Regions from separate parts of the Homo sapiens genome. Here region 2 is reported to be linked to region 1. The links are microRNA targets in miRTarBase. Many come from high-throughput screens and were not tested one by one. Region 1 holds a microRNA gene; the other region holds the end of a gene's coding sequence.
What was found. Region 1 holds the annotated microRNA hsa-miR-6877-3p (CAGCCUCUGCCCUUGGCCUCC, at 946-966, shown strand). A microRNA usually pairs through its seed, bases 2 to 8, with sites in the 3' UTR of a target mRNA and lowers its output. Matches are read on the target gene's strand: a 7mer-m8 pairs with bases 2 to 8, a 7mer-A1 pairs with bases 2 to 7 and ends in A, and an 8mer does both.

Region 2: the mRNA of NRIP2 is a reported target of hsa-miR-6877-3p. Seed matches in the 3' UTR shown: 7mer-m8 at 1,582-1,588 and 7mer-m8 at 1,627-1,633.

The regions. Positions count from the first base shown.
Region 1 is chr9:133,051,090-133,054,089 of GRCh38, forward strand. MIR6877 (microRNA 6877) reads left to right here and starts at 907; the gene lies at 907-970. It overlaps GTF3C5 (general transcription factor IIIC subunit 5), which reads left to right. Exons shown (of 11, transcript NM_012087.4): 5 at 971-1,075; 6 at 2,739-2,853.
Region 2 is chr12:2,824,807-2,827,806 of GRCh38, reverse strand. NRIP2 (nuclear receptor interacting protein 2) reads left to right here. Exons shown (of 6, transcript NM_031474.3): 5 at 130-182; 6 at 508-2,459. The coding sequence ends at 600. It overlaps ITFG2 (integrin alpha FG-GAP repeat containing 2), which reads right to left. Exons shown (of 12, transcript NM_018463.4): 12 at 2,731-3,000. Among named protein-coding and RNA genes, the nearest start is that of NRIP2, 8.7 kb to the left of the region's middle. RefSeq lists a silencer at 2,390-2,684.

The DNA.
Region 1 (3,000 bases):
CCCATTCCTTAGTGCATGGGAACTTCTCACCTTCAGATGCCATGTCTAAAGGCTGTGTCGGTATAAGTTCTACATTCCCAAGGTTGAAAATGCTTCTTAGAGTTCTTAAGAAAAATATGCGTGCGTTGTTCAGATGTGACATAAACGTGGAGCTCTGGGATCCACTGAGCTCTTATTCTTCCATTCACTCATTGCAGCCAAGCCAGTGGGGCACCTAGTGTGCCAGGCCCAGCACTTTCTTACCGTTAGAACTGGAACCGTGCTGCCAGGCAGCCCTCCTTCCCCGGGCTTGCGGGTGCCGTGGAGTCCTGCGTCCCCACTGGCATGAGCATCAGGTTCACAGGCCACTGCCACCTGGAGCCCGGCGCTTCCCTTACGCAGTGTGCCTGTGGGAGACCACGTGGATGTCTTGTTGATTTCCAGCAGTCACTGGGGCACACTGTCAGTGGCTCCTTATTGCCCACCAGGCACAGCCCACATTCCTGACCTGAATTGGCTCGTGAGGCCCGCTGCCCCAGCCCCCTGGCCCTCTACACTCCGGCCACACTGACCTTTGCAGTCCTCCCCGGGCCAGGCTGTCCCCTTCAGCCCTGACGATGTCCCACCTCAGGCACCTGTTCTGTAGATTGGGGCAGCATGGGGACCCTGGGACTCTAGCATGTGCCCCCTGAGCCGTACTCCCCACCGCGCTGTGGGCTCTATGAGGACAGCGACCATGTCTCTTATCGTTTGAGAGACCCAGCCCCACAACTGCACTTGGCACAGGCTGGGCATGCAGCCCAGGCTTCTGAGGGAAGGGATGAATTAGTGAGAGCAGGAGGTCCTAGGGCCACGCCCTGTGTGTCCAGCCCCTGTCCTCTACCAGCTCCTCTCTGGAGGGGCCGCTGGGGCCCAGAACATGTTGGGAGTTCAGGGCCGAAGGGTGGAAGCTGCTGGTGCTCATCTCAGCCTCTGCCCTTGGCCTCCCCAGCTGTTTGACATCCGTCCCATCTGGTCCCGAAATGCTGTCAAGGCCAACATCAGCGTCCACCCAGACAAGCTCAAGGTCTTGCTTCCCTTCATAGCCTATTACATGGTAAGTGTCAGCTGCCCACCCACCTGCCTTGGTTTCCACCCATGTGGTCCCTGGTCCCTGCTGTGATGTCTTAGAGCCACAGTAAGAGCAGCCAACCCCCTATCCTGGCTCCCCATCCTTCCTGCCCCACCCCCATCCTGGCCCATCCTTCCTACCCACCCCTGGCCTGGCCCTCATCCTTCCTGCCCTGCCCCCAACCTAGCACCTCCCCCGTCCTGGCACCCCCATCCTTCCTTCCCCCCTGTCCTGGCCCCCCGATCCTAGCATCCCTAAGACAGCTTATTAAAGCCAGCTAGAAAAGTTTCAGCTCCCTGAGTCCAGGGCGCCCTCCACAGCCTGTTGGGCTGCAGAACCCAGCCCCTGACCACAGCGGCCCCATGTCGTCCTCTACCTGTGTTGAGTGGGGTTCAGTGGGAGGCAGATCCACCTTTGATCCACAAGCATGTAAAGACACATGTCATTACTGAGGTTCCAAAGGTGCTGGTTGGAAAGGGATCCTCCCCGCTGCCAGGCCTCACAGAGCATTAGGGGAGGCCAGCGTAAGACATGACTGTGAGGGTCTGCAACAGGCAGTAGGACACAAGAAAGACTCATTTCTTCTGCCTTGTTGGACTTCCGGCTCAGGAGAGCGACCTGTGCTGCTTGGCGTTGGCATTTTATTTTATTTTATTTATTTTATTTATTTTGAGATGGAGTCTCACTCTGTCTCCCAGGCTGGAGTGCAGTGGTGTGATCTCTGCTCACTGCAACCTCCGCCTCTGGGATTCAAGTGATTCTCCTGCCTCAGCCTCCTAAGTAGCTGGGAGTACAGGCGCACGCCACCATGCCCAGCTAATTTTCTTTTTTTGCATTTTTAGTAGAGATGGGGTTTCGCCATGTTGGTCAGGCTGGTCTCGAACTCCTAACCTCAAGTGATCTGCCTGTCTCGGTCTCCCAAAATGCTGGGATTATAGGCGAGAGCCACTGCGGCTGGCTGGCATTGGCTTTTTAGACATAAGCCATTCAAAAGCTCCGTTTAGGGACAGAAGATGTCTCATCGATTAGGCCAGTAGTAACATTGGGCACTTAATATGTGCCAGGAACCATGGTAAAGGCTCCACGGGCGCTATCTCATTTAATCCTCTGAAAAACCATGGGAGGCCAGGCATGATGGCTCACTCCTAGAATCCCGGTACTTCGGGAGGCTGAAGCGGGAGAATCGCTTGCATCCAGGAGTTTGAGACGAGCCTAGGCAACATAATGAGACCCCATCTCTACAAAAAAATTAAAAATTAGCTGGGTGTGGTGGCTCGTGCCTGTAGTTCCAGCTACTTGGGAGGCTGAGGTAGGAGGATCACTTGAGCCCAGGAGGTTGAGGCTGCAGTGAACCGTGATTTTGCCACTGCACTCAGCCTGGGCAACAGAGTGAGACCCTCTCCCCCAAAAAACAAAAACCCACAGGAAAGGGTGCTCCTTTTCCCTCCATCTGACAGGAAGACCAAGGTTTGGAAAGGCCACGTGCCCTCACCAAGGTGACAGGGCCTGCATGTGGCAGAGCAGGGCTGGGCATCCAGAGCCCTGTCCCCAGCTCCTGAGCTCTTCTGCTGCCTCACTGTAGGCTCTGGCCCGTCCAGGGACCTGGGCCTTCACCTCACCTCACATTTTCCCCACTTTTCTGTCCCAGATAACAGGCCCCTGGCGCAGCCTATGGATTCGATTTGGGTATGACCCCCGAAAAAACCCAGATGCCAAGATTTATCAAGTCCTCGATTTCCGAATCCGTTGTGGAATGAAACACGGTAAAAATTCCTGAAAGCTTTGCTTCCTGCCTTTCTCTCTCTTTATCTTTCAGTTTCTAGCATTCTCTTTTGTAGTAAGAATCTTTTCATTTGGAAAGAATAAAAAAACCTTTTGCCCCCGTTGCTGAGACTCTTTTGAATGCAGAA
Region 2 (3,000 bases), not on the chromosome of region 1:
CCCCCATCTCTGTGCCAGTGTCCTCGGATCTGGGGATGGGGTGGGCAGAGAAGGAGCAACGGCTAAGAGGAGGGCAGCAGTGACCACTGGGAACCCTCAGCCTCTTCTGTTTTCAAATTGTTCCTATAGATGCTGAGAGTCCTGAATTCTGCCTGGGCCTGCAGACTCTGCTTTCTCTCAAGGTAAGGCACCCACTCAGGGCCTGACCCAAAGCACTGGGAAAAAGTAGTAGAAGGCACAGGTGTGGAACCTGGACCAGGTTCTGATGAGAGTGACTTAGAGATGGGCAACTGTCCCTTTGCTTCCTTAGAGGTTCCTTACTTACCACCAAGTGAAAAATCAAGAGAACTGGGTCACCCCCTTCAACAGGAGTCTAGGGAAATGGGGATGGGGGAAGAGCAAAAGGCAGGTGGAAGCTGTGGGAAGTGGGAGGGGGAACAAAAGGAGCAGGCCGGGAGGCAGGTGGCGGGCTGAGGTGACCTGGCATGACTGCTCTACACCCCGCAGTGCTGCATCGACCTGGAGCACGGAGTGCTGCGGCTGAAAGCCCCGTTCTCAGAGCTACCCTTCCTGCCTTTGTACCAAGAGCCTGGCCAGTGACTGCTGTCTCAGTCAGTCCCCAGAGGGAAAGACCTTGCCTTAGAAGAAGAGGCGTGTGGGGAACGGGGGCTCTTGAAGCCAGGTAGCTGGGGACTATGGTGTCTGCCCTTCCAATCACCTCCCTGACCCCTGCTGTCCCATTTTCCCCAGCTGGCCGCATTCCTCTCTGCTTCTCAGCAGCTGTCCTACTCCCCAGGACGAGTTTTCACTAGAGGGCCCACGATGCCAGGATTCTGATTCATCTTCCTCCCAAGAAAAGCAAAGCCAAATCAAGACCACAGATAGGAACCTAAGCACAATGGGGTGCCTGCTTGGGCTGGGTCGAAGGCTCTGCTGACTGCTGTCCTTGTCCATCACCCAATACCACCCCAAACACAACTCAACTTCCCACACCACCATGTCTCTCACCACACCTTCTGGGCCTCATTATCTCCCACAACTAGACCGCCATGCCTCACCAACCTATGTCCCTGGACCTCCTGGTGTCTGCCTCTCGGAGTCTGTGCACATCTGCTCACAGTTGAGTGGGGGAAGAAACAGCCAGAATTCAATACAACAAAGAGCGGGAGTTAGTATAGGAATGTCCATCTCATAAGGCTGAGAGCTATTTTTTCCTGTGGCTGCAAATGTCTGAAGCCAGTTAGTTTGATTACCCTGTGCAAAACCTTGGACATACTTCTGCTATTAACGCTATAGGTATTTATCCGTTTCCACTGGCTTTTTGTACCCACCGAGCCCCTGAGCCTTGCGTGTGTGTGTGTGGAAGAGCCTTGTAGAGAACTGCTCCTGTGAGGCAGACAGGACAGTGAGGTTGTCACCACTCAGACTTCACCTATTCAGCATTCTTTCTGATTTCTAGAACTATCCACCTCATTAGGCCTTCTTCCTATCCCCATCTCTGGCCTCTTGAGCTTAAGCTTGTATTGTCCTGGAATCAGTGGCTTTCTAACCCCCTGCCAGGCTTTGCCAAAGCAAAAAGACAGAGGCTTTTTTTTTTTTTTTAAAGTTTGGGGTCTGTCAGGAGACAGAGGCTTTTTTGAATTCACTGTGAAGAGAAGAACCCGAACCTTAAGACGCCAGATCCCTGAGAGTCTTTCTGGCTGGTTTGAGTCTCTCAAATCATGGATTAGGAGTAAAGAAAGAGGCCAGGCGCAATGGCTCATGCCTGTAATCCCAGCACTTTGGGAGGCTGAGGTGGGTGGATCACTTGAGGTCAGGAGTTTGAGACCAGCCTGGGTAATATGGCAAAACCCCATCTCTACTAAAAAATACAAAAATTAGCCAGGTATGGTGGTGAACACCTGTAATCCCAGCTACTTGGAAGGCTGAGGCATAGGAGTTGCTTGAACCTGGGAGATGGGGGTTGTAGTGAGCCAAGTTCGTGCCATCGGACTCCAGCCTGGGTGAAGGAGTGAGACCCTGTCTCCAAAAACAAACAAAAAAGGAGCAGAGAAAGACAGTGGTACAGCTAACCTGAACAAGGGAACTGGGACCGTTGGGCTGAAACAGTCTTGAGCCTGGGGTTGACTGGGTTAGAGAAGAACCGGGATGCAAGGAGCTGCCTGTGACACCTGGCCTGCCCTTTCTCAGCTGCCTCCCCTGCCCTTTCTCAGCTGCCTCCCCTGCCCTCAGAAGGAAAGGAGAGGGCTCACTTATCACTTGTGCCATAGCACCTGGTCTCAAAATCCTAAAAGCTTTCCTCGCCCTCACTGCCTTGCTCCACAAGGTCCACTTTCCTGGGTCTTGTGCTGTGCCTTTCCTTGTCTGCCTCCTGCTGCTTCTGTAACTGCAGACCCCAGGCCCAATGGCAAGCCCTCGGCTCAGCTGCTTCTCCATTGGAATAAACTCTTGTTTCTCTATGTCGATGTTCTTCTCTGGTCTTCCTCCCTGCCTATCAAGAGCTGAGTGATAATTGCCCATTGTCCCTTACAGAAAGGAAATGTAAATGTGGGCCCTTGCCCAGGCTGACCCATCTGACTAGGGTCAGTATAATTGAGAGGAATTTGAAAGCAATGGCTTTCAAACTCCTCGACCACAGCTTACCACAGCAGGAATACATTTTACATGGCACTCAGTACACACATGCACATATGACTAACAAAACAATACTTACCTACACTGAGAGCAATGTACTCTGCTATTTTCTATTTTACTTTATTCTATTCTACCTATTTAAAAAATGCTGGCCATAATCCACCAAAGGACTGCAACCACAGTTTGAAAAACACCGATTTAGAGCATAGAGAATCAAGAACAGACGGCACATAAATGACCCAAGATATAATTCTGATTGTGGTCTGGATCATAAACCCGCATCACATTTTAAATGTCTATTGTCTTGGAGACAATAAGCTGTTTTATGGGGGAATGGGTGGGTGGAAAAATGGGAGCAGGGCTTCT